3 linked regions of the Homo sapiens genome follow. The protein of the gene in region 1 interacts with the protein of each later gene in a biochemical or structural test. Each region holds a gene or a part of one and is shown in the gene's direction. Other genes may lie near its edges. The genes, in order: MAP3K14, SLC9A1 and ZFP91.

Evidence for each region.
Region 2: the proteins of MAP3K14 (region 1) and SLC9A1 form a complex in vitro, tested with the Homo sapiens proteins (one study listed by BioGRID).
Region 3: the proteins of MAP3K14 (region 1) and ZFP91 form a complex in vitro, tested with the Homo sapiens proteins (one study listed by BioGRID).

What each region holds. Positions count from the first base shown.
Region 1 is NC_000017.11:45,312,036-45,323,440, reverse strand, and holds the start of MAP3K14 (mitogen-activated protein kinase kinase kinase 14), read left to right. Parts: upstream 1-6,420; 5' UTR 6,421-6,481; intron 6,482-11,003; exon of another isoform or gene 11,004-11,156; intron 11,157-11,405.
Region 2 is NC_000001.11:27,102,603-27,110,400, reverse strand, and holds part of SLC9A1 (sodium/hydrogen exchanger 1), read left to right. Parts: intron 1-623; coding exon 624-874; intron 875-2,535; coding exon 2,536-2,753; intron 2,754-4,313; coding exon 4,314-4,516; intron 4,517-7,088; coding exon 7,089-7,178; intron 7,179-7,657; coding exon 7,658-7,728; intron 7,729-7,798. UniProt on the Homo sapiens protein: Electroneutral Na(+) /H(+) antiporter that extrudes Na(+) in exchange for external protons driven by the inward sodium ion chemical gradient, protecting cells from acidification that occurs from metabolism.
Region 3 is NC_000011.10:58,613,889-58,622,400, forward strand, and holds the end of ZFP91 (E3 ubiquitin-protein ligase ZFP91), read left to right. Parts: intron 1-340; coding exon 341-455; intron 456-2,827; coding exon 2,828-2,927; intron 2,928-3,307; coding exon 3,308-3,818; 3' UTR 3,819-7,662; downstream 7,663-8,512. UniProt on the Homo sapiens protein: Atypical E3 ubiquitin-protein ligase that mediates 'Lys-63'-linked ubiquitination of MAP3K14/NIK, leading to stabilize and activate MAP3K14/NIK. It thereby acts as an activator of the non-canonical NF-kappa-B2/NFKB2 pathway.

The sequences.
Region 1 (11,405 bases):
TTGACTAGGCCCTGGTGCCGGAGAGAGATGAATGAGTCATGAGGCCTGGCCTCAACAGGGGAGATGGACATGGTAACGATAGATGTGGAGGGTAGAAGGAATCCCTGCGCTGGTCCCGGGCTGTGTGCTCCCCCATCCAGCCCTCACCTGCTCTGCTCTGCATTGCAAGTGACTGACCCCTCTAGGCTCCCAGGCCAGTAAGAGGCTCTGGCAGGAAACCCAAAGGTAGAAGGGAAGGAGAATGCAGGGATTTCTCCCCATCCCTCTCAGTCTTAGTGGTATCTGTGGAAGTGGTTGTGTCTTCTCTATGGTTTCAACTTCTTCCAAGTGACCCCAGTCCCAGCCTTTGATTACACTGCCCCAGTCCAGTCCCTCCAACCCAGGGGTCGCAGCTGGATTCCTGGTTACTTCCCCCATTGTCTGAAGAACTTCTCCATCCTTTCATCCCCTATGTAACCAATTTCCTGCATTCAATTCTATGTTTATTCTGTTTAAAAACTCAGAGGCCAGGCGAGGTGGCTCACACCTATAATCCCAGCACTTCGGGAGGCCGAGGCGGGTGGATCACCTGAGGTCAAGAGTTCAAGACCAGCCTGGCCAACATGGTGAAACCCCGTCTCTACTAAAAATACAAAAGAATTAGCCGAGTGTGGTGGCAGGCGCCTGTAATCCCAGCTACTCAGGAGGCTGAGACAGGAGAATTGCTTGAACCCGGGAGGTGGAGGTTGCAGTGAGTCAAGATCATGCCACTGCACTCCAGCGTGGGTGACAGAGTGAGACTTCATCTCAAAAATAAATAAATAAATAAAATAAAAATAAAAATTCAGAATGAGGCTGGGCTTAGAGGCTCATGCCTGTAATCCCAGTGCTTTGGGAGGCCAAGGCGGGAGAATCGTTTGAGGCCAGGAGATCAAGATCAGCCTGGGCAACACAGGGAGACCCCTACCTCTATCAAAATTAAAAAAAAAAAAACCCTCAAAATGGGTCCTGTTTTCCTGGCTGGATCCTACCTGACATGATACAGTCTCCCCATCTTCTTGCCACACTTGCAGTGGCTTAAGTCCTCATCTGTTGCTACCTGTTCAAGGAAGCTCCCTAAGGGCAGGGACTGGTCTGGAGGTTCCATGCTTCCTACCCAGAGCCTGACACAGAGGAGCTCAGTGCATCACATTTGTGGCTGGCTGCAGATAAGAAACTGAGACAAGGTCATCTACTAGGAGGCAGTTCATGGAGAGAAGGGCTGGTGAGCAGAAACCAGGCTGTAAGGAGCCCACTTGGGTGGGAGATGAAGCAGACTTTCAAGAAGTTTGGGAGTGAAGGGGGAAAGAAGGCTGGGCTAACAGTGCAGGGGAAAGCCAGAACTAGCAAGGTTTTGTTTGTTTGTTGTTTTTAGGGTGTCCTCGGCTTGACCTCATTTGTAGGTTGAAAGGAAGAAGCGAAAGGAGGGAGATATCGAAGGGCAGGAGATGCTGGGACATTGGGAGTGGAATGACAGGACCTATGCGATCTCTTAGGAAGATTCAATTCACCAGAAGGCTTGAGGATAGTGTGGAGAGGAGACTAGAGGTAAGCAGGTGAGTCTGGAGGGGAAAATCTCCAAATCAGGAAATGAGAAGAATTTGTGTCAAGCCAGGGCACCCTAAGAAGGCTCCAAAGTTGGGAGAGGAGGCTAGATCTCTGGAAGGTGTGCCCAGGACCTGTTCTTGTAAGGTCATCTTTGCCCAGTACCCTCCAGAGTCCCCTACCAGCCCTCACCTCCATTCTTTGCTGAAATTGGCACTCCTCTCCCCCTCACCCACATCGCCATGGCCCCTCCTCTTCTACAGCAGCTCTGTGGTTTGTGGTGCCCCCTGCCATCTCCCTATGTGGGGTTGGTTTGGTGGGCAGCAGGCACAGGCCAGAACCAGCACACAGTGGTGTGCCAGCAGGTGTTTAACAACCAACTCAGGATGGGTAGCCCTGATTTATACTGTTTGCCAACTTCCATGGTATAAATACTCCCAACATGTCCAATTTCAAGCTACCAATATGAGATCACTGATCACAAAATAGCTAGAGAGAATGGATCACACTTTGCCTGCATCCATTTATCCATTTCCCCTCCTGCCTCCCTGGCCTCTCCATAGACCTCAGCTAACAGCAGCAGTAGGGCAGGTCCAAGCTGGGGAGGGCAGCAACAGCACTGTGGCTGCAACTTCAGGCAGTCCCGACAGGGAAAGGAAAACTGCTCTCCTCCAGGAACATCCACCCTACAGTCCCCAGTCATCTCTTATCTCAGCCTCACATCTGAATTCTCAAGTGTAACTTCAGAATCTCACAGTAATTTGGGGCCTGAAATCCACATTCAGATGACTCATCAGCCACTTTCTCACTGGACATGGCTCAGCACCATAAACCATGCTGACTAAGGCAATAAAAACCAGAATATAATTTCCTTTCTTCCAAGGCAAACAGAAAAGGAAAAATGATCCAAGGATAGCATTCCTTCACTGATTTACTCACTCTTCAGCACTGTCCTAGAGAACTGATGGGCAATTGGCTCCCTGAACCCTGAAGTCTCTCTGCAGAGTCCGGCATGCAGGAGGGCAGGGGCTCTGAAGTCAGACATGGTTTGAATCCTGGGTCTCCTGTTACAGCAAAGTGACACTGGGAAAGTTACTTCTGTCTGAGCTTCAGTTTGCTCATCAGTGAAATGGGGACAGTAATACTACCTATTCAATGGGGTCAGACTGTAGGGGTTTTCAACCGGGGGCAATTTTGCTTCCTTGGTGACATCTAGCAATGTCCAGAGACATTTATTGTCACATTGGGTGGATGAGGGAGTGCTATAGGTATGTAGTAGACAGAGGCCAGGAAAGCTTTTAAACATCCTGCAATGCACAAGACAGCCCTGATGTGGTTTGGCTGTGGCCCCACCCAAATCTCACATTGAGGCCAGGCGCAGTGGCTCATGCCTATAATTCCAGCACTTTGGGAGGTTGAGGTGGGTGGATCACTTGAGTTCAAGACCTGCCTGGCTGACGTAGCAAAACCCCATCTCTACTAAAAATATAAAAATTAGCCGGGCATGGTGGTGCACACCTATAGTCCCAGCTACTCAGGAGGCTGAGGCACGAGAATCACTTGAACCCAAGAGGAGGAGGATGCAGTGAGCTGAGGTCGCGCCACTGCACTCCAGCCTGGGTGACACAGGGAGACTCCATCTCAAAAAAAAAAAAAAAAAAAAAAAATCTCATCTTGTAGCTCCCACAATTCCGTGTTGTGCAAGGGACCCAGTGGGAGATAATTGAATCACTGGAGCAGTTTCTCCCATACTGTTCTCATGGTAGTGCGTAAGTCTCATGAAATCTGATGTTTTTGTAAGGGTTTCCCCTTCACTTGGCTCTCATCATTCTCTCTTGTCTGCTGTCATGTAAGACATGCCTTTTGCCTTCTGCCATGATTGTGAGGCCTCCCCAGCCACATGGAACTGTGACTCCATTACACCTCTTTCCTTTATAAATTACCCCATCTCAGCTATGTCTTTATCAGCAGCGTGAAAACAGGCGAATACAAGCCCCGTCCCCCAACAATGAATTATCCAACCCCAAATGTCTATAGTGCCAGGCTGAGAAACCCTGGCCTAGAGGGAACATTCAGTGAGGTTATGCACATGAAGTACTCTAAGTCTATCTGGCTTACTTTTTGTAAAGTATCAGAAAACAAGCTGCGATTCTTTCGGAATAGCACAGTCTTAACGCTATTTCCAGACCTGAAATGGATGGGGTGTGAGAACCCTTGAGTACTGAGAACCTAGTTCACTGCTCCAGGTGTGAGTCATCCTGTAAATGTCAATTTCTTGTATTTAAAGCAGAGCTGAGGCTGCACAAGTGACTCAAGGCCAGAAGCTTTCCCAGGTTGTCTTGACTTAAGCTTGGAGGAAGTAATCTCGTCCCGAAGCTCTCCTTCCAGAGGGTGCAAGCATTTCAAGACTCAGAGACACCACACTGCTCACTCTGGGTAGGTGTATTGTTTCTCACCTCACCCACACACAGTGGGGCTTGGAAAGACCTCAGAAAAGTAGCTGAAACGGAGAGGCCTTGCTTATCCCGAATATCTTCCTTACCAGTGTTTAGTGGTTTGCTCCTCCCCTGCAACCTGATGTGACATTCCTTCTCCAGAGTTACAGTTTTGAGTCAACACAGTTCACTGTCTCTGATTAATACACATTAATGTTCAGGGACGGACTTAAAGACAGATCATCTTGATGGGGTAGGTGGGAGTGTACAGGGGACCCAGGACCAGAGGTGTCAAGGGAACCTGGGCAAAGTACAGAGACACTGGGTGTTTTAAAGAAGGAATAGTGAAAGAGAGAGAAGGCAAAGGCAAGCCAGGGAGTGTCTGCAGACTCTGGAGGTGTGCCCACATCTTTCCTGAGAAGTGGTGTGCCCAGAGGCAAACAGGTGGTGGGAGAGGCAATAAGGGCATCCAAGATTGCCGATACCAACCTGTACATCTGGCCAAGCTCTGCCTTTCCCTGAGTCACTGAAATGCAAAACCCTAGGGGTGGAAAGAGATTTGGGGGCCACCAGTCCAGCTTCTTTCTTGTCTGCCATCTCCCAGCTAGTCAGTGGCAGAGCCAGGGTGGGCGCCAGAGACTGTTTGGCTCTAAAGCACGGACTCTACGGGAGCCACAACCTCAAATGCTCCAGGGGCCAGACAGGTGACATAAGGTTAGATGGTTGGGTGGCGGGAACTGTAAGGAACCGCAGGCTCTGCTCTAAGGCATTCAAATTCAAATTTAAAAAAATATTGGGCCAGCCAAACAAAGCATATTTCTGGCCTGGGTGAGTGAATGAGGCCCTCAGGTTGTGAGTTTTTGACCACTGCCTAAATAAATGGTCTTCCCTATTCCCCAGCAGAGATGACTGTTTGGCACAGATATCCAGAAAGAAGAGTTCAGCTTCGGACTGTCTGCAAAGTAGTCTCAAGCAGATGGTGGTCTTTGCTCAAACACTTCCAGAGATGGGGTGTTCCTTACTTTTCAAGACAGCCTTGGGTGGGGCCTGCCTATCCCCGGACTAGAGCCACTCACCACACCTACCATGGACCCTTCATGGAAGTGGGATGCCCAGGGTAGGAGTACATCTTTTATTTTGCAATAAAAAAAAAAGTTTGGATTTTTTTTTTAAAGGACTGCCTCACTCTGTTACCCAGGCTGGAGTGCAGTGGCACGATCATGGCTCACTGTAACCTCAGACTCTCAGCCTCCCCTCTAGCTGGGACTGCAAGTGCAAACTACCACGCCTGGCTATTCTTTTATTTTTTTGCAAGGACGAGGTCCTTGCTATATTGCCCAGGATGTTCTCCAACTCCTGGCCTCAAGCGATCCTCCTGCCTTTGCCTCCCAAAAGCGCTGGGATTACAGGAGTGAGCCACCGTGCCTGGCCTGGAATTTATTACAAATAAAATACAAGCTCAGTGTGGAAACACTAGATAATACAGAGGGGCAAAAGTTAGAAAAAGTTTCTATACCTTCCCTACTCCCCACCCCCGACCCCCATTCAGAAAGAAGCACTGTTGACACTTCAATGCATATTCTGAACTCCAGGTCCTTTCTTTGCATACATCAAGCTCTCATCCTCTTGCTGGCTCTGTGGTCTGCAAACCCAGAGAGCAGATGCTTTGCTCAGCGCTCGTACCACGCCACGCACCCACATGCTCTCTTTGTACCTGGGTTTCAACCCACAGGTCGGGCCCCTGTAAGCCCTTGGCTCCCCAAGCTTCTCGAGGGCAGGCACTGTAACCTTCTTTACTCATTCCAGGGATTCTACAGGACCAGGCACACGGTAAGAGCTCAATAAAAACGTCTCTACCCCCACCACCTCCCGCCTCAGCCGCCACCGCTTGGCAGCAGAGAGGAAGCGGAACGCGCGCGACCCACGAGGGAGAGCGCCTCGCTGTCTCCAAGGTAACCGAAGTCAGTGGCAGGGAGTGCCCACGCATGCGCACACTCGCCCTTCCTTCCCGTAACCTCGAGAACGCAGCTGGTAAGACTGCCAGAAGCCGAGGGCGCATGTGTGGTTCCACCAACACCCTAGTCGCCTCCGCCTTCTGTCAGTCCGCCCGCCCAGCGATCTCCCTTCTACAAACATCGTCCGGAAATAGTGCCCATTTCTGGAAACCAGGCCTCGTTAACCAATCGTTGCTAGGGAGCGGGAAGACGGGCTTGCCGGGACGACCGTCTCATTGGTTGGCGTAGGGGAGTGGGCGGGGCCACGGGTCGCGGTGCGGCCAAAGAAAGGAGGCGCGAAGCGAGGCAAAGTTACAGCCTCCGGGGGAGGCGTGGCCCCGGGGGCGGCCGAGAAGGCGAGGGGGCGGAGCCCGGGACCGGGGCGGGGCGACCACGGGCCGGGAGCTCAGCGGTCGGCGGCCGGCGGCGGGAGATCGCGGGCGAGCGGAGCGCAACACTCGCTTGGTTGGGGAGATCGGCGCTTGGCCGGTAGGTGACGGGGCGGGACCCTGGGGCCCGGTGCGAGGCGACCAGGGAGCGGCTGGGATGGATCGCCTCTCAGCCCCGGGCTGGGCTGCGGCCTGGCCCCTCGCCCCGGAGCAGTGGGGTCGGCGGCCAGGCCAGCGCAGTCCGACGTACCCCGTCCAACCCACTCGCAGCGGTCCGCGGGCGCGCCCTCGCACGCGCTGCCGGTGCCGCGCTCGCCCCGGGCCTCCAGGCCGCGCACTCCTGCTGGCCACACGCTGGCTCCGAGCGCGCGCAGGGGCCGCCTGCTTCCCCTTCACTAGTGCCCCGCGCCGCCGCCAGGCCCGCCCGCCTGCTCTGCGCCCCAGTGCCCCCAGGATGGAGCTCGCCTGCCGCGGGGCGGACGTGTCTCCTGCAGGAGTGCGCCCTGGCATCTGCCCTGGCGTGAAACCCTCCCGGCCTTTCATGGGAAGTTCTCAGGTCACACCTCAAGGCGGGGAGCAGGAGCTAAGCCTGTCCTCAGCATGCAGCGGGGCAGTGCTGGCCGCCCGCAGCATCCTCCCTCCGCCCTCGGACCCCAGTCCTCCTCTGTAATTCTTCTGGGCTCTCCAACTCGGGACTTTATCTGTCGGTTCAAATATAACATTCCCATCTTGGAAACCCATCGTGGCCCTGGCATCTTGCAGCCACTGGGCACCAGGCAGAGAGGGGCCACTTGTACGTACGTTTCCCACCTGCCCGGGAGCCTCCTTAGTGCTGGGTAGCTTCAGAAAAAGTGTTTCCTTCCTAGTCGAGGTTAAAAAGTTGCTCTCGGCCCTAAAGGGTGGACTGGAGGTATGAATGAGGGAGAGGATAAGTGGTGAAAAGGTACATACATCAGCAAAGTAAATGGTAAAACTACTTTTGATCGCTGGAGACAATGAACACCAATGACTTAATTAAGGACTTTAAAAGCACATGAAATTAAATGATTAGAGTGAGGTCATGATATAAAATAGGAGTCTGGAGTTTATTCCAAGAAAAATGTTGGAAACCCCTTGACTAGAAACATGGTCTTTCTGAAAGATTAGAAGGAGACAGTATCTTAACATTAGTGATGTGTTTTTTGCTTAGTGTCTTCATACCTGTGAGCTCCGTTTTCCTTCAGATGGCTGTGTGGTAAGACAGATTGTAGTGTCTTGTTTTATGGGCGAGGCACCTGAGGCAGGTGTGTATGAGGGAGTGGGGGTGGTATATATCTTGCCTGATGCCTCATAGCTGGGACTAAGGATGGGTCTTTCCCAGAATCCTAGATCAGGACCACATTATAGAACTGAGATGCAGAAAGGAGGGAGAAGTTTTTGGTGTGGTTTTTATGCTCTTAATGTGAGAGGACACTTAAAAAGTGCTTGCCTTACTTTGGTTGTGTTTGGATTTACTCTTGGTGTTTTTTAAGTGATATCAATCAGTTTCTTTGGAGCGATGCCAGACCTCTGAATTTTTCAGACACCTTTCGGACATCCTTATTTATTTTGAAGGGTGTGGAGAACTTCTCAGAAGATCTCAAAATAAAAGTAATCGTCTCTGACTCTAATTTTAGAGATAAGTACCCAGGTATGTGTACCAGCTCTTTGTGAAATCAGACAGCAAGACGCTGCCAAGCTTCAGGCCATCTTCTGAGTGTTTTCTGATTATAAGAAGCAGTTCTGAAGGGGGTTTTTTGTCATTGGTATTGTCTGTTAAGAGTTTGTGGGAGCGGCACCACAGAGACCCTGCCAAATCAGTCTCCCTCTATTAAACAAAAATGTCTGGTTGGGCTGTTTCGCCTCAACAGATGAAGGTTTGGTTCCTCATTTTGGTTCTCCTGTTGAACACTGACTCCTTTGTGATCTGCCTGGAATATGTGTATATCATTTACTGCTGAGAAGATGGCTTGCGCTGATTGGTTGTCCAGCCCTCGGCAACTGTTGTGATTTTTTTTTTTTTTTTGGTGATTGATAACAGTTCATCCCTGGCTAGGGTCTGGTGAGAGATCTGCGGAGATGTGAAAGAGATGAAAGCTTTATCCAGGGTTGTTTTCTTCGTTGTTGGCACCCTCTGAACAGTGTTGTATCACTTTGGCCTGTGAAGGCACTTTTAACTTCCTATTTTTTTTCCTGTCTCAATGGACAGCACATGGGCTTTCCTAACAAGCCTGCCTGCCTCGATGAAGAGCTGACAGATTCATATTGGTTGGTTTGACAGATGTTCTTTCTGGGGGGAAAGTTCAGAAATCTTAAAAGCAAAGTCAGTCCTAAGTAAAAAGTCTAAGTCAGCCCAATACGCATAAAGGCAGCGTACTTCTACTAATGGCTTCCATCATCTCAAGGTTGTTTTTTTTTTTTTCCTGGCAAAAGGTTAAAATGCAACTAAAATTCTGCTTTCGTGATTAATAAGTCACTACCACAGTTGTGTCTGATGCTTCCTGTTTGCCCCATTTTAGTATTTCAGTTAAACTGGAAACATCTGAGCATTATGGGCACTATTGATGGCACCAGTGTGAAATTGGTGGGCCGGGGACAATTCCATGTCAGTGGATTTAGGGAGCTCTAAGGATGTCAGCCCCTCTGGTCTCCACACACCAGGATTCCCTAGTAAGGGAACAGAATGGGGCTGAGCATCTGCAAGAGCTGGGTGGGCATTCAAAGTGATGCATGTGTGAAGGTTTTGCATTTACTCGGTGATGCTGGCTAAAATGCTGAAAGTAGTAGCCCAAAAAGGGAAGGCCAGACGTAGGGCAAATTGTAGGGGAGCATTTCTGTTGAGCTGAGCAGGACATTGAAGTATGAGATTTTTTTGTTCTGGGCTTATGACTGCCTGAATGACAATGCAGAAAAAGTCATTTTTCTTCAGTGGCCGGTGTGCTCTTTGTATTCTAGTTTAAAGGAGCCTCTTCCCTTCTTGCTTTTCTACATGTCTTAATCCCTCAGCTCCCTGATAGAAATCCCTTGAAATTATGTGGCATCAAGAATAATTTTATGGCCAGTCTTTGTATTTTCACACCATACTCATGTGAAGAAGGGCAGGGACAAAGATCAGAAAAGTGAAGCCTCATAAGGAGAAACAGACAGGATTGCTCAGAATCTAAACCCCCTTTTCTTGATATCTAGGTCACTGCTTTTTCTACTACCTTGCTCATGAAACGATAAGGATTTTCTTCCCCCAAACATGTCAATTTTGAACATAACGAAACCAGGGTAGCAGCTTTATTTATTTATTGTACCAATCAATTATTAATTGATATTGATTTTTAATTAATAAAAGGCCAAAAGATGAATAGCCTGCTGCCTGGACAGGTGTGCTTGTGCCCATTTTCCAGATGTAGAAACAAAGGCAGAGAGCCCGTGATTTGTCCAGAGCAACAGAACAAGTCCTTGGTGTCTCCGTGTCACATGTGGTGGCTGAGGCTGTCAGGTCAGAGAGACCTGGGTCAGGTCGAGGTCTGCCACGGCCTGCCTGTGTGCCCGCAAGCAAATCACTTCACTTCTCTAATCATCAGGTGCCTCATCTGTGAATGGGATCAGAAATACTTCATGGGGCTGTTTTGAGTAGAAAATGAGAGGAGATATGTAAAGTGCTGAGCCCAGTGCCCAGCACAGAACATAGAGGCTGTAACTGTTGTTGTTGTTGTTGTTGTTCTTGTTGGTGGTGTTTGGTGGTGGTAGTAATAGTAGTAGTAGTAGTAGTAGTAATAGTAGCAGTAGTAGTTGCCAATTACTGCATTGTGACTAAACCTGTTTTCTGTAAGATGATGTCAAGAAGGGTCAGACTGCCTGACAGGCCAGAGTCATTTTCTCAGTAGGACCTTTAGGGGGACAGTCCTTCAGTCTAAAAGCTTCAGCTCTCGGGTTCTCCCTGTCTTACACTATATACTGCCCTCACCATACTCCAAATGAGGCTACAAAGGTCCAGGCTCTGCCCAGTTGACAATCCTAACTCTGAGCTGGAGACACAGCTAGGCCTGTCTAGGGGCTTCCTGTGTCCCACACGTGATCAAGTAGGTTCCTGCATTAATCCTGGAGGTGAGGAAAGGGAAAATACTGTATGGCATGTAGATCAGCAAGGACTTGTTCTTTGGGGGAACAGGAGGGAACATTTGGTTCTGTGGGATGAGGTTCCCACTACCACATGGCATCCCCAGCTCACCACCCTTTCCCCCTCGTAAAGATGTCTTTGTCAGCTTCTCTCTGAGACTCTGTCTGGGGGCCCACGATCTGCAGTCAAGGACTTGCAGATTCCCCTTTAAATCTCACAAGAAGCCTGGAATGGTGACGTGTGTTTCTTTAGTCCCAGCTACTTGAGAGGCTGAGGCGGGAGGATCACTTGAGCCCAGGAGGTCAAGTAGCTATGGGCAACATAGCGAGACCCCATCTCTTGAAAGAAAAACGTTTGTTTTAATCTCACAAGGGAAAAAAAAAGTTTCATGTTATATTTTAAAGTCTTTTTTCACCTTAATACAAAACAAAAATATAGGCTCTCACCAGGCTACTGTTCCCTTTAAATAACATTTTGTTTTCTCTTGGGGAAGCTGACTTGATGGCCGAAGAGTCATTTCTAAAGTGAAGCTAGTTTTTAGAAAAAATAGATCACCGGATGTCAAGCCTCATGTGGAGCTCGGTTCAGATGAAAATGAAACCAGCAGGCCTGGCGTGGCAGCTCTGCACTTGACTTCAGGCTGGAGGTGAGAGGCAGAGTGTGCCTGGACCTTGCTCCATAACTGGTTGGCCCCACAGAGTGCATTTGATAGGTGCCTTAGTCATTTTCCAAGCAGCTTTGCTTAGGTGAGCAGAGCACTTTCTCTGGAAGGTGAGTCACCCATGCAGGGGTGTAGGTGACAGGCGATTTATTCCCCAGCACAGTTGCAGAGAAAGTCCTGAGCAGACCTTCGTGAGGAGCCCTCTGCCACAAATCAGCCTCATCCCAGCCCCAG
Region 2 (7,798 bases), on another chromosome or scaffold:
AGAGAGTCCAAGTCCAGTATGGCCTGAACATGTGTATTTTCAGAAAGCTCCAGAGGTTAAGAAATGACATTCTAGTTCATTGTGTGAACGTCCCTTTTTTGTGCTGAAGGAGGGACTGAAACCCAGTGATGGGCATGACGTGCCCAAGGTCAGGCAGTGAGAGGCAGACTTGATAGCACCAGATGTGGCTAACACTGCATCAGGTAAGGCTCCGAGCACTTGATTCGCTGATTTAGTCCTCACAGCAGTCCTAAGATTTGGTATTATTATCCTCATTTTATAGACAGGAAAACTGAAACACAGGGAGATGAATTTGCTTCCTGTACACAACTCAGGAGTGGCAGAGCCAGGATTCCAGTCCAGGCAGTTTGGCTTCAGGGTCTTCACAGAGCTTCCCAGGGCCCACCCTTCACCAGTGGGGCACGTGGCTGGCCCAGAGCAAGCCCCTCAGCCCCAGGCTGAGGTTTTGAGCACCTGCTTGGCACTAGGGTTTCTCTGCTACCGTGTGGCCTCTTCTTGTGGCCATGGTTAACGGAGGGGACAGGATTGCCCTGGGTGGACCCCAGGGAACCGTGGGGCCAGGGCCCTCTCCTCCCACCCACCAGCCTGCACACCCTCCCCAGGTCCTGTATCACCTCTTTGAGGAGTTTGCCAACTACGAACACGTGGGCATCGTGGACATCTTCCTCGGCTTCCTGAGCTTCTTCGTGGTGGCCCTGGGCGGGGTGCTTGTGGGCGTGGTCTACGGGGTCATCGCAGCCTTCACCTCCCGATTTACCTCCCACATCCGGGTCATCGAGCCGCTCTTCGTCTTCCTCTACAGCTACATGGCCTACTTGTCAGCCGAGCTCTTCCACCTGTCAGGCATCATGGCGTGAGTCTGCGTGCAGCAGGCAGTGGGCTTGGCGGGGTGGGGGCGGGGGCTGCCAGCTTGGATTCCCCAGGCTCGTAGGTTCACGGAGCTCCCAGGGCCCAGCCTTGAGCTCCAGGGATGAGACATGAACTCCAGGCTCCAGACCTGCTTGGTAGCCATTTAAATGGCCAAGGGCATCAGTGGCTTCCTAGAAGAGGAGCACTTCTGCAGCGCCCCCTGGGGTCCAGGAATCGGGAGAGGGCATTTCAGGCTATGAGCAGATGAAGCAAGAATGACCTGCATGAAGGCAAGCCCAGGGTATAGGAGAGCAGAGCCTTGGAAGCCACTAAGCTTCAGGTTGAGGAAAGCCACAGCCCTGCTACTTCATTGTCTCAAAGGGAGTCCCCTCAGCAGCCCCAGTAGGAGGCTCACCAGGCCTGAGTCCTGGCGGTCCTGAGGTCTCCACCGGGTCTGGAAATGGGGAGAATGGGATGTGGGGAGGCAGTGAGGGGTGAAGGTGTTCCAGTGCCGAGCAAGGCAGAACTGGGGTTCAGAGCCCCTGGCTCCCAGGAGCAGAGCCCGGGTGTGAGCACTGGGCTGGGAGGACTCCGAGCTCCAAGCAGCTGCTTGGAACAAAGCTCCCTGTGGAGACCCCTGTGTAATGGCAGATGCCACGCTTGAGGGGAATGAACCCAGGAGACCATGGGTCTGTGTCATTGACTCCTATTGGGTCAAGAGGCAGTGTGGCCTTGGGGCAAAGGTGCAGGCTTTGGAGTTGGACACTGTGGTTTGTGTGTCTTGGCTTTGCTGCCTGCAGGCAGCGTGACAGGGGAGAGGTGACTATTTCTCTTAGAGTCAGATCTCTCATTTTTTTATTTGAGACGGGGTCCCACTCTTGTCACCCAGGCTGGAATGCAGTGGCACGATCTCAGCTCATTGCAGCCTCTGAGTTCGAGATTCTCCCACTTCAACCTCTCAATTAGGTGGGATTACAGGTGCCCACCACCACACCTGGCTAATTTTTGTATTTTTAGAAGAGACTGCATTTCACTACATTGGCCAAGCTGGTCTCGAATACCTGGCCTCAAGTGATCCGCCTTTGTCGGCCTCCCAAAGTGCTGGGATTACAGGCGTGAGCCACCGTGCCCAGCCAAGATCACTCATTTTAAAAATGGAGGAATAGGGCCGGGCATGCGCTCGTCGCCTGTAATCCCAGCACTTTGGGAGGCCAAGGCGGGTGGATTACAAGGTCAGGAGTTCAAGACCAGCCTGGCCAAGATGGTGAAACCCCGTCTCTACTAAAAATACAAAAAAATTAGCCAGGCGTGGTGGCGGGCACCTGTATTCCCAGCCACTCGGGAGGCTGAGGCAGAGAATTGCTTGAACCCGGGAGGCGGAGGTTGCAGTGAGCCAAGATCGCGCCACTGCTCTCCAGCCTGGGTGACAGAGTGAGACTCGTCTCAAAAAAAAAAAAAAAAAAAAAAATGGAGGAATACACCGTGTCTATAGGGTTGATGTGAGGATGAGTGGCAAGAGGGTGTAAAGCACACAGCGGGCCCCTGGCCCATAGAGGAGCTTGGGACATGGGCACCTTGGTCGTGGCCCCATTGCCCCTGGCAGTGGAGGGGCTCGAGCAGGTGCAGCTCGACACGGAGCCCTGACCCCGCTCTTTCCTGCTCCAGGCTCATAGCCTCAGGAGTGGTGATGCGCCCCTATGTGGAGGCCAACATCTCCCACAAGTCCCACACCACCATCAAATACTTCCTGAAGATGTGGAGCAGCGTCAGCGAGACCCTCATCTTCATCTTCCTCGGCGTCTCCACGGTGGCCGGCTCCCACCACTGGAACTGGACCTTCGTCATCAGCACCCTGCTCTTCTGCCTCATCGCCCGCGTGCTGGGTGAGGGCCAGGGCTGGGGCGGGGTGGGGGTTGTGGTGTGGGGTGTGTGTGGGGGGTGGTGGGCTGTGGTGCTGTGTGTGTGGTGTGTGCAGTGCACTATGTGGAAGGGCCAGGCTATGTGGTGTGTGCATGTGGTGCAGTGTATAAGTATTGTGTGGAGGGGCTGGGCTGTGGTGTGTGTGTGTATGCGTATTGCGTGTGTGGTGTGTGTAGTGCATTGTAGGGGGGCTGGATGTGTGTATGGTGTGTGTGTAGTGTGTGGAGGGGTTGGGGGTGTGTGTGTGTAGTATGTTGTGTGGAGGGCTTTGTATATATGTGTGTGTTGTGTGGAGGGATTGGGCTGTGGTGCAGTGTGTGTATAGTTGTGTGGAGGGGCTGGGTGTATATGTGGAAGGGCTGGGTGTGTGTGTAGGGGTTGGGTGTGTGTAGAGGGGCTGGGTGTGTGTGTGTGTGTGTGGAGGGGCTGTGAGGGTGTGGGTGTGTGTGGAGGGGCTGTGAGGGTGTGGGTGTGTGTGTGTAGAGGGCCTGGGTGTGTGTGTGTGTGTGTGGAGGGGCTGGGGGTATATGTGTGATGCAGTTTGTGGTGGAGGTTTCCTGGTTGGCTCCTGCCTGCTCCCAGCACAGCTAGACAGGAGGGACTTCCCATTTCCATGATGGGCCCTTCAGCAGGGAGAAGCCTGTGTCACAGCAAGGCTGTGGTCTCTGGGGACAGAGTCAGGCTGTGTCAAAGTGAGGGGGCCCTGAGACTCTGAGCCTGTGGCTGTGGCTGTCCTGATGAGGGGCCTGAGGCCCACAGAACCCAGGTCTGTGACTCTGAGCTGAGTGCTCTCTGCACTGTCTCAAGACAGGTGACGTGAGCATGTGCCGAATCGCATGCAGAGCCACGTGCAGTCCTCCAAACCTATGCAGCAGGCCGGGGCACACGTGGGGACCAGGCCCCAGGTGCATGGGTTCCACTCACATGTGCCCCACATGCCTCACCCCAGTGCCTCAGTCGCCTCCTCCCTGGATCTCTCACTTCCTCTCTGAGGGTTAGGTCCATGTCCCCAAGCCTGGCAGGACCTCACATTTATTTGGTGCACTTTTGAAATCCCCTTTATTCCTGAGCCTCATCCTCCAGGGATTCTGGTTCTGTGGGTGGAGGTTGGGCCCAGCCCTCTGCATTTTTTATGCTTTATTATGGAAAATTTCAAGTACTTAGAAAAGTAGAGAGAATAGGATCATGACCCCCCACACACCCATCACATTTAACAAGTATTGACCTGTGACCCATCTTGTTTGATCTTTTCTCCCTCTTCCTGCCCCCAGCCCTCCAGCCACTGGAGGCCTCCATGATGTCTCTAAAGCACATCCAGGTTGGGGAAGTCCTTTAAGGATCCACCCAGCTCTTGGATTGAGGAGTTCAGAGCACTCTGGGCTGAGGGACCCAGGAATTGAGTGAGCGGGGTGGGCTTCGTAATGGAGACTTCCTGGATGCACAGAGAAATCACTGATGCAGAATCCAGGAGGGACTGGGGACAGCCCGACCTGACCCTCATCACCCCCTGCCTTCCCCTGCAGGGGTGCTGGGCCTGACCTGGTTCATCAACAAGTTCCGTATCGTGAAGCTGACCCCCAAGGACCAGTTCATCATCGCCTATGGGGGCCTGCGAGGGGCCATCGCCTTCTCTCTGGGCTACCTCCTGGACAAGAAGCACTTCCCCATGTGTGACCTGTTCCTCACTGCCATCATCACTGTCATCTTCTTCACCGTCTTTGTGCAGGTGCTGGGCCAGGGCAGGGCAGGCCCTTGCCTTGGGGACCCTCACAGGCTGTTCCCGTGGAAAGAGAGGAAAGCGTGTGATTTGAAATGCGATTCTAGTCCCAGCTCCACCACTAACTTGCTGTGTGACCTTGGGCGAGCCACTCCCCCTTTCTGGGCCTCAGTTTCTTCAATCGTAAAGTGAGAATTGTGATGAGTCATTGCAGAGTGACTGATCAGAATGTAAAGGAACCAGAATGCTGCCCAACTTAATTTGGAACTCATAGAGCATTAAGAGAAGTGGGTACTGGCCGGGCACGGTGACTCAACGCCTGTAATCCCAGCACTTTGGGAGGCTGAGGGGGTGGATCACCTGAGGTCAGGAGTTTGAGACCAGCCTGACTAACATGGTGAAACCCCGTCTCTACTAAAAATACAAAATTAGTGGGCATGGTGATGCATACCTGTAATTCCAGCTACTTGGGAGGCTGAGGCAGGAGAATCACTTGAACCCAGGAGGTGGAGGTTGCAGTGAGCTGAGATTGCGCCATTGCACTCCAGCCTGGGTAACAAGAGTGAAATTCCATCTCAAAAAAAAAGAAAAAGAGAGAGAAGTGGGTACAGTCAACAGGCCCAAGATCTCTCTTTGCTACTAACTCATTGTAGGGCTTTAGGCAAGAGATTTCATATCTTAGGGTCTCAGTTTCTGCATCTGTAAAATGGGAATAATATCACAGCATGGGGAACTGGAAAGGGCTATGAGCCAGGCAGCAGGAGGCCTGGAGTCAGCCCTAGCTCTGTGTTGGTGTCCCTCTGACCCTAAGAAAGACCCCCACTCTTCTCTGGGTCTCAGTTCCCATCTGTAAAGTGAGGGAACCAGGCGAGATGATTCCCAAGAATCCTTCCAGCCTGCTGCTCAGTGATTTCTGTACATTTAAACGGCTCAGGCTTAGCTGACAGCCACTCTCCTGCCTAAGGTCCCCAAGGAAGCCCAGCCTGTGATGGTGCAAATTGCTCTGCCTTACCTGACTTTGCCTGACCTTGGGCAAATAAGAAACACTCTGTCTGAGCCTCCATTTCTTTACCATCCTTTCTGTCTTTTCTGGGCACTGATACTCAAAAAGCCCTAGATGGGATACATCTTTGCATTCTCTTGAGAAAAAAAAATAGGGGAAACCTGGGGCTGGGCTTATTTTCTGTCCTTTAAAGGGAGAGGGGACCCTGGTGCAGTGGCTCACGCCTATGATCCCAGGACTTTGGGAGGCCGAGGCAGGAGGATCCCTTGAGCCCAGTAGTTCAAGAGCAGCCTAGGCAACATGGCAACCTTGTCTCTACAAAAAATAAAAAAAAAATTAGTGGGTATGGTGGTACACACCTGTAAGTCCCAGGTACTTGAGAAGCTGAGGTGGGAGGATAGCTTGAGCCCAGGAGATTGAGGCAGCTGTGAGCTGTGATTGAGCCTGTGTGACTCCTCCAGCCTGTGTGACAGAGTGAGACTCTCTCTCGAGTTAAGAAAAAGGAGAGAGGCTGGGCGCGGTGGCTCATGCCTGTAATCCCAGCACTTTGGGAGGCCGAGGCAGGCGGATCGCCTGAGGTCAGGAGTTCCAGACCAGCCTGGCCAACATGGTGAAACCCTGTTTCTACTAAAAATACAAAAATTAGCTGGGCGTGGTGGCAGCCGCCTGTAATCCCAGCTACTTGGGAGGCTGAGGCAGGAGAATCACTTGAACCCGGGAGGTGGAGGTTGCAGTGAGCTGAAATCGCACCACTGCACTCCAGCCTGGGTGACAGAGCAAGACTCCATCTCAAAAAAAAAAAAAAAAAAAAAAAGAGGAGGAGGCTGCCACTTTTGTCCTCTTGCCCTGCTTCCATCTTCAAAAAATTTTTTTTACCTTGATTTTGCAGTTGTATGTGCTAATGATTTTCCAAGCCCATTTTCATTGAAGGCAACATTGGGGAGGGGGCCTCCCTCCAGAGCCAGCCTGCCTGGGTTTAAATCATGGCTTTACTGCTTCTCTGGGATCTTAGAAAGCTGCTTATCCTCTCTGAGCCTCAGTTTCTGCATCTGTTAAATAGAGACAATGGAAGGACCTCCCTCTTAGTGTTGCGGATATTGGAGAGCTGATTGATGCTAGAACACTTCCAAGCACGTGTGTTGGTCACATGGCAGGTGTGCAGTTCCATCTGCTGCTGCTGTTATTACTCGGTCCTCCTCACAGTCCTGGTGGGGAGGCAGTGCAGAGGTAGTTTTCCCTGTGTGTGGGGCCTGACTTCCATGGGGTTGCAGAGCAAGTCTGTGGTGCAGTCCACATCTGAACCCAGGCTGTCTGCTGCCTGGCCCAGGCCAGATGACCAGTGTGGGGGTCATTTGGCAGTGAAACCTCTGACCGTGTCTCCAGGAAGAAGCAGGCCTTAAGGACCTGTCTTTAGATAAGTGCTGGGAGGTGGGAGAGTTCTCACACCCTTGGGTCCTGGGAGAGAGCAGAGCAGAGAGGGCATCCTAGCCTTGGGGGCCTGGGGTGAGGGAGGGAGGCTCTGTGGCCTCCCTGCCTGGGTAGCAGAACTGGAGTGCCTGACACCTGCCTGCCCCCCAGGGCATGACCATTCGGCCCCTGGTAGACCTGTTGGCTGTGAAGAAAAAGCAAGAGACGAAGCGCTCCATCAACGAAGAGATCCACACACAGGTACTGGAGTGCGGGCTGGGCCCTTGGTTGCAGAAGGAGGAACAGGGAGATAGGGAGCAGCTGGGCCTCAAGTCTCTGCCCCCCATCAGCCCCTTCTCCCTGTGCCAGTGCCCAGGGGCTCCCTCTGCCCCAGGAGGCCGCCAGGGTCTAGCCATAGGAAGGTGTGGTGTGAGCAGCTGGGAGCCTGAGGAGGGGGCATCATGCCATCTCTGCCTCCATTTGAAACCTATCCCAGGCATAGGTCCCAGGTGGGATTAGAGAAGGGGGCTCAGCCGGACACAGGCAAGGCTTCGAGATACCCAGAGTCAGGGCCGCTGGGTTCGATGAGTGGAGTGTGGGCGCCACCTCCTGGCTGCTCATGGAACCACAGGGCTGGACCCAGCAGGGCTGCAGCTACGGGAGGGAGTGGGGCTAGTCAGAGGTCTTGGTAGGGAAGGCGCCCCACAGCGAGGCTTGACTTGGCCCTGGGCCCCTTTCAGTTCCTGGACCACCTTCTGACAGGCATCGAAGACATCTGTGGCCACTACGGTCACCACCACTGGAAGGACAAGTAGGTGGCAGGCCTGGTGGGCAGGCAGGGAGGGGCAGGCAAGGGTCTCCTGGGCCTGGGCATCTCCCCA
Region 3 (8,512 bases), on another chromosome or scaffold:
GTGCCATTTGCTGCTCTAAAGCACAGTACAATACATAATCTCTTATCCCCATAACAACACTTTGAGATGGTTATTGTTACCTCCATTTTACAAATGAGAACTGGAGCTTGAAATATTTGTCTCCTAAGATTACAAAGGCTAGTGAATGACAGACCCAGATTGGAAACCAGGTCTGTGTATTTCCACCTATGTTCTTAGCCACTTTATTATACTCCCTCACTATCCATGTGTGAAATCTAAGTATTTGGTTTTCCTTCAGTACTTTTGACTTAGCAAAGACAAGTACTTTCAGGAAGCCTTAATTTTTTTTTTTTCGCCCCTTTCACTTTCTCTGTTTTAGCACCACATTAAATACCAGCATTTGCTGAAGAAGAAATATGTATGTCCCCATCCCTCCTGTGGACGACTCTTCAGGCTTCAGAAGCAACTTCTGCGACATGCCAAACATCATACAGGTACTTTTAAAATGTGTTTATCAAGTAGGTAATTGCACTGTGCTTTAGTTTTGCATGTTGGTAATGATAACGTTTTTCTAACATAAGTCTTAAAAGATTCTATAGTCAAGTGCGGGGAAAAGGTGTGAAAATAAAATGTAGTAAGACAAATTTTACAAGGGATGGGCAGACTAGGACTTTTGAATTTTTATCCTTTGACTTCTTGAACTTCTATGACCGGGATAATGATCTTCTATTGAGCATTTATTCTGTATCAACTGTGGACTAAATACGTTATGTATATTATTGCTAATTAGTCTATTCAACACCACTAAATTTGTTTATATTGATCTTATTTTACAGCTAAGAAACTAGAAGCTTGGCAGGATTAAGTAACCTGCCCATGGTCACATAGCTAGTTTTTAGGAGAAGCATAATACTCTGCTGCTATTGAAACTGTGAAGTCTAGCTGTTGAATTTGCATGTAAACTCCCATAGGAACTGTCAAAAAGAGTTGCTGAGTGTCTGCAATATGTATTATAGAATAGACTCAAATTCAATTTATTTGTAACCACTGACCATCTCAGTGCAGTGTACCTAATAGGAACAAATTGGGTGCATACCACTGAGTATGTCCCAGACACTTGATAATTACACATTACCTTCTCAACAGTCTTAGAGAGTAAGTCTAGGAATTCTAGTTGTAGAAATATGTCTCCTGCCCAAGGTCATACTGATAAATGAAATAACTCCTTCATTTACTGTAGGAAAGTTACTTAACTTCTCTTTTCACTTTTCCTTCTCTGTGTATTAAGGATACCAATATCAGTTATTGTAGGGATGAAATGAGATAACATAAAATGCTATTGACTACACAGAGCCTGGCACAATACCAGGATTGAACTTGAATCTTAATCACTCCAAAGTCTACAGTTTTCTTATACCATGTTTCTTCAGAGTTATTTCCACAAGTAACAGTTATTTCTGTTTCTTGATAGGTACTGCAATTTCTCTGTTCCTTCTGCTCCCTGTTAATACTGTTTTATGCCATAGAAAAGTTGTTTCTGACAGCCACTTTAGATTGTTTTAGTTAAATATCAAAAGCGTATGAAAAACTTTTATAAATTCAGTCCATTTCAAATATTTATATTTGGTTAATACAATTTATGATGTTTTACTTTTGCAAATTAGTATATACAGACTTTTTTTTGCAAATGTCATTTATTTAGCAAATAGATGCCCCACACAGGTTTGTCCTGCTATGGAACTGGAAATGTGGACATGACCTGGGAGATGCTAAGAGTTTCCTAAGTTAGAACTGTGCGTTTTTAGACCTTGCTATATAAAGTATGGAATACAGACCAACCAGCATTGACATCATTTGGGTTCTTATTAGAGATACAGAATCTCAGGCCCTGCTTCAGACCTGCTGAATCAGCATATACATTTAATAAGCTATCCAGGTGATCTCTAAGCTGTTTGGAAAGGAGTATAAGATTAAATTGGATATTGTTCACCTTTTAACTTAAATTCATGTTTTCATTCTCATTAATTCTGGTAATTTGAAGCAAAAGGAGTAGAAAATGTAGTGGTCATTAATTCAACAAATATATATAGAGAGCATCTCTTTGTGCACGGGCTTCCCAAACACGGTAAAGAAATGAATAAGTACAATGCTCCTTTTTCCTCCTCATAGATTCCACACCGTGTTACCACATTCATCAGAAATCCTGCATAATGGGGTTGAGGGTGTTGTGAGTGACAAAGGGAGGTAGTTGAAAGGTGCAGAAGATGGGTAGGAGAATAAGGTAAAGTAGTACAGGTGTTATTTACATATATTTGATAGCAGCAACTCCAGTCTTTTGAGAAAAGTTTATCTTGAGTAACATTTTTTAAACCTGAAACAGGGTATGATTACCTTTAGATCAGTTTTCTTCTATACAGTGCCAAGTTCTTGTTTTTTGTTTTTGTTTTGTTTGAATGCCAGATTCTTTCTGTGTAATCATTCAGTTTTCATTGTCTGTGAAAAAAATTGTTTACTCCTTAAAGGAGTAAAATATATGGAAAATATAGTTGTTTACTTGCTAACCACTTGGTATCCAAGACCTGGATTAGTGGTAAAATTGAGATTAGGATTCCATTTCTTATATTTTTATCTAGTTTTTCTGTTTGTTTTTGTTTTTTTTTAAACAGGTCCTTATGCTACTGAATGTTGGATTTTTTTTAAAGCAATACTTTTCTTTTTTAAATTTTGTTTACCCAAAGTGTTTATACATTGAAAACAGCATTGCTTTTACTCTAAATTGCCTGCCCCATCATCTGCTTACTTACTGTAAGGGAAAATATTTACAGGGTATCTAAATAGAACACTAACCACAGTATTTTCTTCATAGATCAAAGGGATTATATCTGTGAATATTGTGCTCGGGCCTTCAAGAGTTCCCACAATCTGGCAGTGCACCGGATGATTCACACTGGCGAGAAGCCATTACAGTGAGTATTATTTACTGGTGAACATCTGGGTGAGAAGGATATATGCCCTACTTGAAGGTTTGCCGCTTTACAAACATATTAGTTGCCACTGCTGTTTACTTTCATCAAATAAATGAGTGGATATTGATTGGGGGCATTAGTTAGTAGCCTTTTTCTTAGTTTCCCTCTGTTTTTCAGGCAAACAGAAGAAGATCAGATTAGTTTTCCATCTAGTAACATTTCCCAATCCTTCAAAAGAAGTATGTTACTGATTATTGTGTGTGTGTGTGTGTGTGTGTGTGTGTATGTATATATATGCTCTAAACTCTAACCCTGATCCTGAATAAGAGCACTCTTTATTTCTCTGTTGGATCAGCCATTTCCTTTTCTCCTCTCCTTAGATGTGAGATCTGTGGATTTACTTGTCGACAAAAGGCATCTCTTAATTGGCACATGAAGAAACATGATGCAGACTCCTTCTACCAGTTTTCTTGCAATATCTGTGGCAAAAAATTTGAGAAGAAGGACAGCGTAGTGGCACACAAGGCAAAAAGCCACCCTGAGGTGCTGATTGCAGAAGCTCTGGCTGCCAATGCAGGCGCCCTCATCACCAGCACAGATATCTTGGGCACTAACCCAGAGTCCCTGACGCAGCCTTCAGATGGTCAGGGTCTTCCTCTTCTTCCTGAGCCCTTGGGAAACTCAACCTCTGGAGAGTGCCTACTGTTAGAAGCTGAAGGGATGTCAAAGTCATACTGCAGTGGGACGGAACGGGTGAGCCTGATGGCTGATGGGAAGATCTTTGTGGGAAGCGGCAGCAGTGGAGGCACTGAAGGGCTGGTTATGAACTCAGATATACTCGGTGCTACCACAGAGGTTCTGATTGAAGATTCAGACTCTGCCGGACCTTAGTGGACAGGAAGACTTGGGGCATGGGACAGCTCAGACTTTGTATTTAAAAGTTAAAAAGGACAAAAAAAAAATCTAAAGCATTTAAAATCTAGTGAAATAACTGAAGGGCCTGCTCTTTCCATTGTGGATCACAGCACACACATACATACACCCTCCACCTCCCCATCCCCTGTTCTCCCTCTGTTGCTCCCCTTATAAAATTGATGTTGTCTTTACCAGAAAGGTAGACAAAAAAGAAGCAGCAGCAGCTCTTAAAGTGAGGGTTATTCTCATACTCGGTTCCAGCCATCAGCAGACTTCCTGCTCATCGGCAGATCCCCCTTTCCAACCTGTAACTCTGATGTGCTCTGGATCAGCTTTTAACTTTTAATCATATATTACTGTCTTCTAAATCCCTTCTCCTCCTCTACTGCTGCCCTATGGTTCTGGCTCCTACCCCCTGCGGCACACTTATCTTCAAATACCATAGAATTCTAATCTCTGGAGGCTGGCAGCTTGACTTGGCACTTTAGGGCCCCTTAGCAGGGTGAGCTGTTAAAACAGCACACATCTCTCATCCCCTCTTCCTTTATTCCCCCCTGGGTTTCAGAAAGGAAGGATATATGGGGACCACCTCCCCCTTCTTTGATCCCAGCATCTCAGTCCCCCTCCCAACCCTCCATATGGCTCTCAATGGTGCTCACTTGCTTGGAAGCAGGCTCCCAATAGGGAGGGGGCTGCCCTCTACAGTCTCTTTGACTGTAAGACAGGGCTCTGTATCAGTGAGACGATGAGAAAAGTCCCAGGCTAATGGCAGAAATTTGCACTTTGAACATGTGTGTTTTTGTGTTGTGGAACCTGAGATTCCTTATTTATTAACAGGAAGTCTGATTTTTTTTTTTTGGAGTCTTTGTTGCTATATTTTGTGGGGCTGGGAGAGAGAGATTAGATTATTTTGACATGGGATCCCTTCCATAACAGGTACTTTGAAGGCAAGACATAGGGTTGAAGAAGCACAGCCAGCCTCTGAAATCATAGCTCTCCAGTGGCTTTTAAAGAAAGCTGGTCCTCAGCACTAACAAAATCACTACAATAGCCTAGTGCTTTTTTGGAAGCCTTTTTAGGGAAGAATGTTAGGTTCATGGTAACTAGTATGCTCTTTGAGATTTTTACAGTGTTGAAACTTAAGAATTTTGAGAGGGTGAGGAGGGTTGTTCAGAATCTAAATTACAGATAGATGATTGTTTCTTGTGAATTTGTTTCTTTTCCTTTTTTTTTGTCCCTACCATTTCCTTACATTTCCCTTGGGGCCCATCTCTGGCTCCTTGCTTTTTGTTTCTTGCTTTGCTTTATCAGTTCATTCCAGCTCCCTGTTAGTGAAGGACACTGCTGTTAGTGAAGGAACAAAGTCTATGAGTCCTAAAATTTTAAGTCAAAGAAAACTGCTCTGTTTCCCCTTTAGTAACACTTCTGAAGAGGAAAAACTTCAATAGCCAAAGTTAATAATCCTATATAATAATTGCTTTGGCTTTCACCTAAAATTCTGGGCATCACAATTTCCTTGGGATAGAGGTTGTGTTGGGGAATAGATTGCTTATTGCTGTTCACTGGAGAGAAAAGGTAGTGTTTTTGTACAAGGTCATACCGCCAGAAGCCCCAAATCCTATTTTGGCTCATCTTCAGGTAAAGAGTAATTCCTATCCTGTGTGCCTCAGAAGCTAGAATCGAAGGCTTACCCTATTCATTGTTTATTGTCAGAAATGCATGATGGCTCTTGGAAAGAATGACGTTTTGCTGGAAAAAAAAAAAAGAACAGTTTGTGTTTCACAAACATGGCTTATCAATTTTTTCAAAGAATTCTTTTTTCCCAAAAAGAGGAGTAACAAAATGTCATTTCTGAAAGAGGCTTACTTTATACCAACTAGTGTCAGCATTTGGGATGCCAGGGAACAGAGAGTGAGACACCTACAATCACCAGTCTCAAATGCGCTATTGTTTCTTTTCAGAGTGTTGCAGATTTGCCATTTCTCCATAATATGGGGATAGAAAATGGAATAAAGATAGAAGGGATGTAGAATATGCTTTCCTGCCAACATGGTTTGGAGTCGACTTTGGTATATTGACTAGATTTGAAAATACAAGATTGATTAGATGAATCTACAAAAAAGTTGTCCTCCTCTCAGGTCCCTTTTACACTTTTTGACTAACTAGCATCTATATTCCACACTTAGCTTTTTTGTCACACTTATCCTTTGTCTCCGTAAATTTCATTTGCAGTGGTTAGTCATCAGATATTTTAGCCACCTACACAAAAGCAAACTGCATTTTTAAAAATCTTTCTGAGATGGGAGAAAATGTATTCTCCTTTCCTATACCGCTCTCCCAACAAAAAAACAACTAGTTAGTTCTACTAATTAGAAACTTGCTGTACTTTTTCTTTTCTTTTAGGGGTCAAGGACCCTCTTTATAGCTACCATTTGCCTACAATAAATTATTGCAGCAGTTTGCAATACTAAAATATTTTTTATAGACTTTATATTTTTCCTTTTGATAAAGGGATGCTGCATAGTAGAGTTGGTGTAATTAAACTATCTCAGCCGTTTCCCTGCTTTCCCTTCTGCTCCATATGCCTCATTGTCCTTCCAGGGAGCTCTTTTAATCTTAAAGTTCTACATTTCATGCTCTTAGTCAAATTCTGTTACCTTTTTAATAACTCTTCCCACTGCATATTTCCATCTTGAATTGGTGGTTCTAAATTCTGAAACTGTAGTTGAGATACAGCTATTTAATATTTCTGGGAGATGTGCATCCCTCTTCTTTGTGGTTGCCCAAGGTTGTTTTGCGTAACTGAGACTCCTTGATATGCTTCAGAGAATTTAGGCAAACACTGGCCATGGCCGTGGGAGTACTGGGAGTAAAATAAAAATATCGAGGTATAGACTAGCATCCACATAGAGCACTTGAACCTCCTTTGTACCTGTTTGGGGAAAAAGTATAATGAGTGTACTACCAATCTAACTAAGATTATTATAGTCTGGTTGTTTGAAATACCATTTTTTTCTCCTTTTGTGTTTTTCCCACTTTCCAATGTACTCAAGAAAATTGAACAAATGTAATGGATCAATTTAAAATATTTTATTTCTTAAAAGCCTTTTTTGCCTGTTGTAATGTGCAGGACCCTTCTCCTTTCATGGGAGAGACAGGTAGTTACCTGAATATAGGTTGAAAAGGTTATGTAAAAAGAAATTATAATAAAAGGGATACTTTGCTTTTCAAATCTTTGTTTTCTCTTATTCTAGGTAAGGCATATTAAAAATAAATATGTAAAGAAGAAAAATAAAAGTTGTCTTCATGGAAGCAACTTGTCTTCCTTGGTTGTACTGAGTTACAGTTATCCTAGGGGTGAAACATGTGATGCTGCTAAGCAAACCAAATGCCCTCAGAACAGGTGTTATGTGGGGCATACTATTGTTTGCTTTTGTTGAGAATCAGGTGGTTAATTTTTGACTGTTCTTGATTTCTAATGCTGAAATGACATGATTCTGTTATTCAGCAAACTTGGAAATCTTGATGTTTTGACAACTGCCTCCTAGGAAAACTGGCCATATGTTAATTAACCTAGTAGATGGAAAATTAAGGATTATGTGAGGTTAATTTTACCCTGATAATGACAAAACCTTGATAGCATTTAATATTAATACTTCTTCTCAAAATTGAATGTTTATATCAAGTACTGATTTTTATTTTAAAAAAGAAAAAACTATAATCCTTCTGCCTTCCAAAAGCCATGCTGTGATAGCTGCCCAGGCTGCTCTGTTACATCTCCCATTTATTGTTTACTTTTATAAATTTGCTTCTAAGATGGTATGTGTTTCAGCTTATTGGCAATATCTATGATATAAATAATGAAAGCTAATTATTTCATTTAGCCCTTACCCAATAAGCATCATTTTCTAAGTTAAATGCAATAGAATGACAACCCTCCAAGTACCTTTTAACTTTTATACTGTCATTTCAAAGCCCAGCTCATTCTCTTATTTTAAGAAGCATGTGGTATGACTGGGTAGGGGAGAAAAAAGGAAAGCATGTTGTCACTTGAGTGAGACTGCTTTAGAAATGTTACCAAGTTAGCGTTGGGTGTTTCCTGTTCTTTGGAAGAGAACAGGCCTAAACAGTACCTTCCTCCTCCTATGTAGCTACCAGGAAGGCACCGTGATTGAAATTAGAGATGCTTCCTTGCTTGATTTTTAAGTATAAATTAAATTACCTTTAAAAAGTACGTAAGGTTAGGAGTGAAAAAAATCCTGTTTTTAAAGGACTTCACACACCCTTTGTTTCTTGAACAAGATGTGAACTACCTAAACAGAAAATGAAATTGGAAAGTCAGTGGGAGAGACAACTATAGAATCAGACTTCTATTTAAATTCAAGCCTCGTTACTTGATTTTGTGCATGTTATTTCTTGAAGTTTCAGTTTCTTATATGGAGAAATAACATTTACCTCAGAAATATTCTGAAGATCAAATGGAATTGCTTTAAAGTATTTAGCTTACTGACTGACCCATGGTAGATACTTAATAAATGGCAGCTGTGTCAATAACAATTTTATTGAATGAACATTTCGCCAGCCTATGAGAAAAAAGACATGGGAAGCATAAGGGAGAATGATAATAAAATGAACTAATTCTAAGTGTGTGAGATAGATTACATTAGGCA